2 separate regions of the Homo sapiens genome follow, and region 1 is linked to region 2. The links come from fine-mapping of genetic effects on gene expression. A gene starts in region 2. The other region holds a variant in brackets. All regions are shown on one strand. Distances are between the middles of the regions. Region 1 has its middle 12 kb from the start of WTAP. Region 2 holds the start of ACAT2 (acetyl-CoA acetyltransferase 2).

Region 1 (5,374 bases), 47 kb after region 2:
GATAGGTGAAAGCTAAAAAAGTTGATCTCATGGAAGTAGAGAGTAGAATAGCGGTTACTAGAGACTGGAAAGGGTAGGGGTAGGGAGGGGACAGCCAGAGGTTATTAACAGATACAACAGTACAGCTAGATGGGAGGAATAAGTGCTAGTGTTCTACAGCACCATTGGGTAACTATAATAACAAACAATTTATTGTATATTTTCAAATAGAAGAGCAGATTTTGAATATTTTCAGCACAAAGAAATAATAGATATTTGAATTGATAGATGTGCCAATTACCCTGATTTGATCACTACACATTGTATACATGTATGGAAATATCACAGTGTACTCCAGAATATGTACAGTTATTATGTGTCAAATAAAAATAATAATTTTATGGTTAGGCACAGTGGCTCATGCCTATAAGCCTAGAACTTTGGGATACTGAGGTGGGAGAAGTCCTTGAACCCAGGAGTTCAAGACCCTCCTGGGCAACACAGCGAGACCCTGTCTCTAATTCTAAAATAATTATAGTAAAAAAATAAAGATAGAGTTAGGTTTTAAACATTCTGAACTCCTTGGTGGGAGTAAGGAGCATCTGTTGGTCAACAGAGGTAACAGAGGTATGGGTAGCTCAGAGTCAATTATTCTCGGAAACAGGCTTGTCCAGCTACTGGAAAAAAATCCCTTCATTAGGAAAAATAAAGGCACCTTTTGCATGTAATTTCCCTGTCCTGATCCCTGTAATTCTTTCCTAGTTGCCCATTCAGTACAAATAATAGCAGCTTTCTGAAAAGGATTTAGCATGCCAGAATGACTAGGCATTGCTGTACTCCTTCCAACATCTGCTGGGGTATTGTGGCACACACTACTGGGAGCCATGTTCCTCCTCTTGCACAATCTAGGAACTTCTAAATTGTGTTTGAGTCATAGTATCTTCAGGCCAGGAGATGAATTATGGCTGGTGTAAGCCAGTGTTTCTCAACAAGTGTGCTACTGGAATTTTGGACAAGACAATTTGTGTGTGTGTGAAAAGTATCTTGTGCATTTTAGGACATTTAGCATCCCCACACCAACCCACTAGATGCCAATAGCACCTCTCTGTATATGTGACAGCTGAAAGTGTCCCTTTCTATATTTTCAATACTGCCCCCTCCCGTCATGCCCTTGATGAGAACTGCTGGTCTAAGGCAAGCATGGCTGTCATGGTCTTTACCACATAGTGATGGTGCTCAGTCTTCTTGCAGGCAGAGTTGGCCAGTTGAGCAGTTCTGGCTGGGATCAGAGGAAATCTCTCGGGGCTTCTGAGAAAAATTTTCCTTCCGGGGAGAGGCACATGAGGTGAAATGTTTTCCCCCTCCCTTCCTTGTTGTCTCTTACTAGGCTGTGAGAGGCTGTGCTGCTTGCACCTATAGGAAACATCTTGTGACGATGAGGCAACAAGTTGGAAAATGAAAGCAGGCTGCTGGGAATTCAGAGTCAAGAATGGAAAGTCCCTGGGTCCGGGATGACCTTGTTAATCTTCCAGACTCACCAAGGGACTGCCAGTTCTTGTACTTTTTATTAGGTAAAACAGATATGTCCTTATATTTAAAACCACTGTTCATCAGGATTCCTGTTACCCATAGCCAAACACATTCTAACTTAGAGAGGAAGGGCATTTACATGATCAGCAAGTGAAATAAAATGGAGAGGTGCCAGCAAAACTAGGTTTTTCTGTGACACTTTGCTTTATTGTTGTTGTTTTTACATTATGATGTCCATAGCCCTTGTTTCACAATAAAGCAAAAATTTAAAAGTCATTATTCATTTCCAGAAAACCAAACTTTTATAAGACAAAAAGCTAACTACAATAAAAATATAAGGGTCTTGAAGGATTTTATTTTCAGAACTTTTTTTTTTTTTTTTTCCTTGAGACAGGGTCTAGCTCTGTTGCCCAGGCTGGAGACCAGTGGTGTCATCTCAGTTCACTGCAGCCTGCACCTCCTGGGCTCAAGCGATACTCCCACCTCAGCCCCCCAGGTAGCTGGGACTACAGGTGTGAACTACCATACCCAGCTAATTTTTGCATTTTTTATGGAGACGGAGTCTCACCATGTTGGCCAGGCTGGTCTCAAACTCCTGGGCTCAAGTGATTCTCCCACCTTGACCTCCCAAAGTGTTAAGATTACAGGCGTGAGCCACCATGCCTGGCCTATATTCAGAACTTTTCAAAATACTATTCTGTTTGCCTCTGTTGCTTGCTAATAGTGTTTAACCTTATGGATGCAACGGTAAGATCCTGTTTGGTCAAACCTTCAGTCAAATCTCTTCAGTTTTTAAAAGGACGGTTTTTT[G/TG]TTCCCCACAAATTAAAGACCCACTAGGACAGGAGACAGTCCATTCAAAAACTATGTGACTGTTGACAAACTGTAAATCCATTCTTCTGCCAGAGGAGAGCACTGGGCCTTAAGCAATGGTTCTACTGTTGACCACACTGACTTCCTGTTAGACATGTTTTTGTTGCTCTTCCCTGTTTTTCTTAACCTGTAAATAGTTTTCTCTATCCCACTCATTTGGGTCCCAGTGCCACTGGCCAATCCAGGTCTTCAGCTTTTCTTGTCGACTAACAGTGGCCCCCCAATTGGTCCTCTGCCACCCATCTTTGCTTCCCATCCAAACTCTCTCCTACACAACAAGCCCTTTCTAAACACAAGTCTGGGAAATTTCCACTCCTGGGAAAATGGACTAGACATACTTTTCCATGTTCCTCTCACCAAGTATGGCTAAAAATCCTGAATATTATATGTAAAACAAGCAGAAGAAGACTGAAAGGCAAACTGGCTATGGACTTCAGGACCCAAGGACTGACACAGGAATGACTCCCTGTGTTTCATTTTTGCCTCATATATCCCAGAAGCCAGCAATCTGTACACATCAACAAGCACAGACAAAAACAGCCACCAGCAAAAGCCTCTTATGTATAACTAAAGGTCCAAGAAAGGAGGCAGTCTACCAAGACAGAAAACCTTTAGACAGTAACTGCTCTACTCCAGCCAGACAACAGAGAAGAATCTGCAGCCTACCCCCATCCACTCAAGCAAAGGCTTCTGATGAAAATGCCAGTGGGCTGTGATGTGATTAGTTAGGCAGGACACCAGGGTAGGCTTATCATAATCTGGGCACACAGAATTGCAGTCATTTGGCACACCTTTTCAACAAAGTGAAAAACAGGAATTGCTTTATAGTACCGTGGGAAAGAGTACCGCCTGGCGATGAAACGAGCAAAACATCTAGAGGCTGTGCTGCTGAGCCTGCTGGTGGAAGTCAAATCAGTGTTGGTTCTTAAAAGTTCACTACCCAGGCCCTGCCTGGGGAGTGAAGTAGGGAGTGTACAGTCAGGAGAAGGGACTGATGGAATGTGCGGGTCTGTTCCCGATGGAAGCTAGGCTTATCTTCCCTTGGAGGGAAGAATCCGTATGTAATATGTCAGCCAGTGTGGGACTCAGGGAAGTCCAAGGTCATTGGGTTTCTGGAGGGAAAAAAGAATAGAGGAAAAGGTATAGGCAGAGATGATGTTTCTTTGGTCCTCACAACCCGACGTCTAGGGAGGTGAGGGCCTGTATTAGTCTTATGTGACAGATGGGACAGCAGAGGCACAGAGAAGTCAGATGGCAGCAGAGATTAGAGGTAAAGCCGGTGTGCTCATGTGATCACTTGCTTATGTGAGCAGAAGTAGTTCTGCTTGTCATCTTGCTATAGCCCATTTGAAGGCAGAAGGAGGATAATTGCCCACTACACCAAAATTGCATTCCGCCAAACTTGCCACCAAGAGCTCAACAGTCGCCACGATGCTGAGCACGGAAGGCAGGGAGGGGTTCGTGGTGAAGGTCCAGGGCCTATCCTGGTCCTGCTCAGCTGATGAAGTGATGCACTTCTCTGATTGCAAAATACAAAATGGCACATCAGGTATTTGTTTCATCTACACCGGAGAAGGCAGACCAAGTGGTGAAGCATTTGTTGAACTTGAATCTGCAGATGAAGCGAAATTGGCTTTAAAGACAGAGAAACCATGGGACACAGATACGTTGAAGTATTCAAGTCTAATAGTGTTGAAATGGATTGGGTATCGAAGCACACAGGTCTGAATAGTCCTGATACTGCCAACGATGGCTTCGTCTGGCTTAGAGGACTTCCATTTGGCTGTCCAAGGAAGAGATTGTTCATTTCTTTTCAGGGTTGGAAATTGTGCCAAATGGGATAACACTGTGAGTGGACTTTCAGGGCAGAAGCACAGGGGAAGCCTTTGTGCAGTTGGCTTCGCAGGAGATAGCTGAGACGGCATTGAAGAAACACAGGGAAAGAATAGGGCACAGGTACATTGAAATCTTCTAGAATAGCCAAGCTGAAGTTCATACCTACTATGATCCCTCTCAGAAGCTCATGGCTGTGCAGTGGCCAGGTCCCAGTGATAGGCCAGGGGCTGGCTGAGGTGTAATAGCATTGGCAGAGGAGCTGGGTTTGAAAAGATGAGGCAGGGTCCCTATGGTGGAGGGTATAGAGGCTATGATGACTATCGTGGCTGTAATGATGGATATGGCTTTAGGTCTGATAGATTTGGAAAAGACCGCAATTACTGTTTTTCAGGAATGTCTGATCATAGATACGGAGATAGTGGGTCCAGTTTCCAGAGCACCACAGGGCACTGTGTACACACGAGGGGTTTACCTTACAGAGCCACTAAGAATGTTATAATTTCTATTCACCTCTTAACCTCATGAGAGTACATATTGAAATTGGACACGATGACAGAGTTTACTGGTAGGGCAGATGTTGAGTTTGCTGCTCACGAAGATGCAGTGGCAGCTATGGCAAAAGACAAAGCTAATATGCAGCACAGGTACAGGGAGACCTTTTTAAATGCTATAGGAACAAGTAGGGGGGTTTATGAACACACCTATGTAGAACTTTTCTTGAATCTACAGCAGGGGCAAGTGGTGGTGCTTATGGTAGGCAAATGATGGGAGAGATGGGCTTACCCAACCAGTCTAGTTATGCAGCTGAGTGGTGGTTGTGGAGGTGGTTATGGTGGTCTGAGTAGTGTGAGTGGTGGTTATGGAGGTGGTTATGGAGGTCAGAGCAGCTGAGTCGTGGTTATGGAGGTGGTTAGGGTGATCAGAGCATTGTGAGTGGTGGTTATGGAGGTGGTTATGGAGGTCAGAGCAGCTGAGTGGTCGTTGTGGAGGCGGTTAGGGTGATCAGAGTAGTGTGAGTGGTGGTTATGGAGGTGGTTATGGTGATCAGAGCAGTGTGAGTGGTGGTTATGGAGGTGGTTATGGAGGTCAGAGCAGCTGAGTGGTGGTTATGGAGGTGGTTATGGAGGTCTGAGCAGTGTGAGTGGTGGTTATGGAGGTG
Region 2 (5,374 bases):
TCCAGAGGCTGAGGTGGGAGGATACCGTGGAGCCCAGGAGTTTGAGGTTATAGTGGGCTACGATTGATTACACCACTGCATTCCAGCCTGGACAACAGAGTGAGACCCTGTCTCTTTAAATAATAATAATAATAATTAATTAATTAATTACGAGTGTTCAAACCCAAAGAATCAGAAGATGGGGGCACTCTCAGGACTCAGCTATATTCCTCTGGGGAGTGATATGCCCCATTTGCAAGGGGCATGATGTGGCACCTATTTTCCAAGCTCAGAACTGAGCCCTAAGAGGGCAGGGAACTTACCTGTATTGTTGGAACCATACTCCCAGCACTAAGCACAGTATGGGGCACATAGGAGGAACTGAATACATTTTTGTTGAATGAGTGACACTTTGAGGTAGTAAGGAGGAGCAGGCATACTTTCCTATGCGTCAGGCTGGCCCTGCTGCTGCTTCTTCTTCTTCTTTTTAAAAGGAGTCTCACTCTGTTGCCCAGGCTGAATGGAGTGCAGTGGCACAATCTCAGCTCACTGCAAGCTCCGCCTCCCGGGTTCACGCCATTCTCCTGTCTCAGCCTCCCAAGTAGCTGGGAATACAGGCGCCCGCCACCACACCCGGCTAATTTTTTGTATTTTTAGTAGAAACGGGGTTTCACCGTGTCAGCCAGGATGGTCTTGATCTCCTGACCTCATGATCCGCCCACCTCGGCCTCCCAGAGTGCTGGGATTACAGGCGTGAGCCACCGGGCCCGGCCGGCCCTGCTTCGTAAGAATGAAAAGGCAGTGGGCCGCCTGTAGTCCCAGCTACTCGGGAGGCTGAGGCAGGAGAATGGCGTGAAACCGGGAGACGGAGCTTGCAGTGAGCCGAGATCACGCCACTGCACTCCAGCCTGGGCCACAGAGAGAGACTCCGTCTCAAAAAAAAAAAAAAAAAAAAAAAAAAAAGGAAAAGAAAAGGCAGTGTAGGTGGTGTAGGTCAGTGGTCTAAGTTCATTCACAAAAAGCATATTAATGAAGCTAAGTCTTTTTGTTTGTTTAGAGAAGGGGTCTCACTCTGTCACCCATGACGGAGTGCAGTGACACAATCACTGCAGTCTCAAACTCCTGGGCTCAAGTGATCCTCCCACCTCAGCCTCTCCAGTAGCTGGGAGGCACAGGCCATCATACCTGGCTATTTTATTTTTTGTAGAGACGGGGTCTTGCTTTGTTGCCCAGGCTAGTCTCAAACTTCTGGACTCAAGTGATCCTTCCTCCTCCGCCTCCCAAAGTGCTGGGATTACAGGCGGGAGCCACCCTGCCTGGCCAAGAAGCTGAGTCTCAAGCTGGATAGAAGCTACTGACAGGGCTGGAAGAAGGGGGCCAACAGGAGGAATCATAACAGAGGGAACTCTGAGCAAAAGCAAGGAGGCAAGAACTTGAGTGAGTGAGAGAGTGTGTGAGTGTGTGAGAGTGTGTGTGTGTGTGTGTGTTTATGGGCTGTTTCTAATAAGCCTGACTTCTCCTGGAATCACTGAGACTTACCTGCTGCCAAGACATGTCCAAAGATGACCTCAGACACATCTTCCGGAGCCACAGTGGCCCTCTTCAAGACTTCTTTGATGACAGTGGAGCCCAGGTCCTGGACAGGAACAGCAGCTAAGGCACCATTGAAGGAACCTACAATAGAAAGGCGGAGAGCGTGGACATCACAAGCCTGCGGGTAATACGGGAACCACCTACGAGCAGGGGAGCCTCATGACCCTGTTTGGCAAGGCCACGCGAGGAGGCAGTGCCCTCTCCTCCCACACGTTCCTACACCTGCTGGTCTGAGCAAAGGTCAAGGTGGGTGCCACAACTCGCAGCAGCCGAGGGCTGGACAGGCGACCTCCAGAACGGCCTAGGGACGCCGCTGTAGCCCTTCTATTTCCCCAAATCCGAAGGACTGGATGCGACCCCATGCTTCCCAAACAAAAGGAACCGGCGGGTCAAGGGCGTTGAAAACCATGCGGCACGAAGGAGACGAAGTCACGACTTCTAGCCATTGTGTGACAGCCCGACCCCAGCCCAAAGCCGGGCTCAGACCACCTAGCAGTTCCGCCCCTGCCGCAGGCATTACCGATGGCGCCTCCCGGAGCCGGCCAATCAGGGGCCCCGGAGGAGAACACCTCCCTACGCCAACCAATGGGAGAGGCAGGCCACGCGATGGCTCTACCCCGGGAGCCAATCCAAGCACGAGGGACGGAGTGCGCACATCGGGAGAGGAGAGGGTGGGGCTGTAGCACCAGGTCAGGGAACGCGGGAGCCGCAGGGTTCCAGGGATCCCGCGGCTCCTCGCGGCTTGGCCTGACCGGCTTCCTCCACATACGCCCCTCTCCTACACAAGTCCGGCCCTCGGCGCTCCTGCCGAAGCAGCAGGCGCCTCGGACTCTGCGCGGCTCCCGCCGGCCACTCACCTATGATGGTCCGCGCCGCCGAGACGATGACCACAGGATCTGAGCCTGCATTCATCTTGCTTCTCCTGCCGCCGTCTGCCCTGCGCTGCCTGCAAGCTAGGCAAAGCTCCTCCTCGCAGCCCACAGGCCTGCCGCGGGCGGGACCTGAGGTAGCCCCGCCCCTCGCCCTCCACCTCCCCGCGCACCACCTCCCCGCGCATCCCACTGTGCGCAGGCGCAAGGCCGGAGCAGGGGCGGGCGGAGGCGCGCGGGGCGCGGGGCGCGGGGCGCGGGGCGGAAGTGAGGCCGGGGCGCGGGGCGCGGGGCGGAAGTGAGGCCGGGGTCTGGGCTTGCGGGCAGAACCGCGGACCTCGGACGCATTTACAGAGCGCCTGAAACCCCAGTGTTTCTGGACACCCCAATGTTGGAGTTCCCCGACTTGACGTCTTGGGCTTTTTTTTAAAAAATCTTAGGGTTTCTCGAAACAGTAAAGACTGGGGGGTGACAAAGACTTATCTCTCGTTCAGCTCAGGACTGGAATCCCACGGGCGAGAATCTCGAGTGCGAGCCCGGCCCGCGGCGGGTCTCAGCACAGCTCTGATGGGTCCTTTTGCTCTCGGCGGCTTCGGGAGGTCCTATGCGTTTCTCCTGGCGCCAGTCATTCGCTCGCGTGAGGGGCTTGCTAGGAGCGTCTCGGTGCGAGCCCCCTGCCTTCTAAGATCAACTCTGGCTGTGAACGGGTGAGGACGCCGGGAGCGTCTTAGCGTCACAAAAGTTCCTTTGGTTGACGTTTGGACAGTGAAAGGAGCATGTAACAAGTGGGGTCAGTTTTGTTTAAAACCCTTTCTGACTTCCCAGCCTCTTACTGGGCAAAGTTCATAATTTTTCTGAGCTTTCTAGGGTTTCCAGGCAAGCTTATGAGGGGCCACCGTTACAGCAACTTGTTGGGAACACCTGGATAGTGGAACAAGAAAGCTTTGTCACAAAGTCATGAAGGGGAAAACTGTTGACGGACCTGGAGAATCTTCCTGAAGAACTTTAAAGTTGATTGAAAGAATCATTAAATCCTGGAAACCTACATTAAGACTTTGCAGAGATATGCGGATGGGTCAGATAAATCAGAGAAGGTAAAGAGTGTAGGCCCCAGAGGTGGGGCAATAGAGAAGGAAAAAAATTGCATAACAGTGCAATTTCAGGAGAAATCTTTAGGGTCTGGAATAGTGGTGAAATCAGCTGTCTACTCTGCTAAGAACTCAGCAGCACACTGAAGTCTCTTCAGTTGTCTTCAATGTGTTTCCTGTCCCCTAACATATCTGAGTCCAAGGAATTCAAGGAATGCCTCCCGTGGCTTTTGCTCTATTCTATCCCATTTTCCCCTTACTCCCTGGCCACTTCTGAGTCTTTGTGGGCTTACTCTCACATCCCCTTAACATGTTCCCCAAGGCTCCTACTTTGCACCAGCTCCCTGGGTAATACCAGTCATTCCTACGGCATCAATCACCACCTGTATACTGACAAGTCTGAAATCCTTACATCTAACCTCGTCTCCTAAGCTGACTGACCCTCTTCATTTAAATTCTTACAAGCACATCAGGTCGGGCACCTTGGCTCACACCTGTAATCCCAGCACTTTGGGAGGCCGAGGAGGGCGGATCATTTGAGGTCAGCAGTTTGACACCAGCCTGGCCAACATGGTGATATCCCGTTTCTACCATAAAATAGAAAAATTAGCCGGGCGTGGTGCCGTGCGCCTGTAATCCCAGCTACTGGGGAGGCTGACATGGGAAAATCGCTTGAACCTAGGAGGCAGAGGTTTCAGTGAGCCGAGATCACACCACTGCACTCCAGCCTGAGCGACAGAGAGAAACTGTCTCAAATAAATAAAATTTCCTATAAGCACATCAAATTTGACATATTGAAACCAAACTCTTCCAGCCTGTTTCTTCTGTAATCTCAGTGAGCAGTGAAACTATCTTCTGTTAACCAAACCAGAAATTTACCTCTGAAACTCCCCCTAAACATCACTTCTTCCAGAAAAACCTTCCAATCTCCTGCATTTGGTGCAGCATCTTACCCCTAACTTCCTCTTTCAACTTACCATGTAATTCCTAGTTTATCTGTCTCCTCTACTGACTACATAAGCTTTCCAAGATGATCCTGTTACACTGCTTTATGCACAGCTCCTAGCACATTATAGGCAGTTATGAATGAACACCAATATTCTTTATGGCCAGTGCCTAGCACATTTGAATGAGTATGAATATATTCTTCTGGAGCCAAGGGATATAGAGTTTCCTGCCTGAAGGCTCTATCTAGAGTAAGTTTAGGAGCCAATCTTGAGAAGGTAATTGCATGCTTCTGCTGAGTGGCCAAACAGAATCTGTCCCCTGAGGAGTCCTCATTATAGCTACTCATATGATTATCTACTCATATGAGACAGACAGAGACTAAGAATAATGAATGAAGGAAAGAAGAGGAATTTTTTTTTTTTTTTTGAGACGGAGCTCGCTCTGTCACCCAGGCTGGAGTGCAGTGGCGCTATCTCGGCTCACCACAACCTCCACCTCCCGGGTTCAAGCGATTCTTCTGCCTCAGAGTCCTGAGTAGCTGGGATTACAGGCCCGTGCCATCATGCCCAGCTAATTTTTATATTTTTAGTAAAGACGGGGTTTCACCATGTTAGTCAGGCTGATCTCGAACTCCTGACCTTGTGATCCGCCCACCTCGGCCTCCCAAAGTGCTGGGATTACAGGCGTGAGCCACCGCGCCCGGCCAGCTGGAAGATAATTTTTAAAATTATGTCTTGGCCGGCCGCGGTGGCTCATGCCTGTAATCCCAGCACTTTGGGAGGCCGAGGCGGGCAGATCACCTGAGGTCGGGAGTTCAAGACCTGCCTGACCAACATGCAGAAACTCTGTCTCTACTAAAATACAAAATTAGCTGGGCGTGGTGCCACATGCCTGTAA

Evidence for each region. PIP is the estimated chance that this variant, and not a neighbour inherited with it, causes the effect.
Region 1: its variant is fine-mapped to the expression of ACAT2 in whole blood (TOPMed, PIP above 0.99).

What each region holds. Positions count from the first base shown.
Region 1 is chr6:159,712,422-159,717,795 of GRCh38, reverse strand. It overlaps a transcript of SOD2 not described here and the pseudogene HNRNPH1P1. Among named protein-coding and RNA genes, the nearest start is that of WTAP, 12 kb to the left of the region's middle. The variant G/TG (reference allele first, on the strand shown) is at 2,320.
Region 2 is chr6:159,759,198-159,764,571 of GRCh38, reverse strand. It overlaps ACAT2 (acetyl-CoA acetyltransferase 2), which reads right to left and starts at 2,527. Exons shown (of 9, transcript NM_005891.3): 1 at 2,430-2,527; 2 at 1,519-1,653. The coding sequence starts at 2,484. It overlaps SOD2-OT1 (SOD2 overlapping transcript 1), which reads left to right and starts at 2,240. Exons shown (of 2, transcript NR_037166.1): 1 at 2,240-2,578; 2 at 2,936-4,314. It also overlaps a transcript of SOD2 not described here. RefSeq lists enhancers at 646-1,146, 3,215-3,274 and silencers at 2,555-2,704, 2,725-2,784.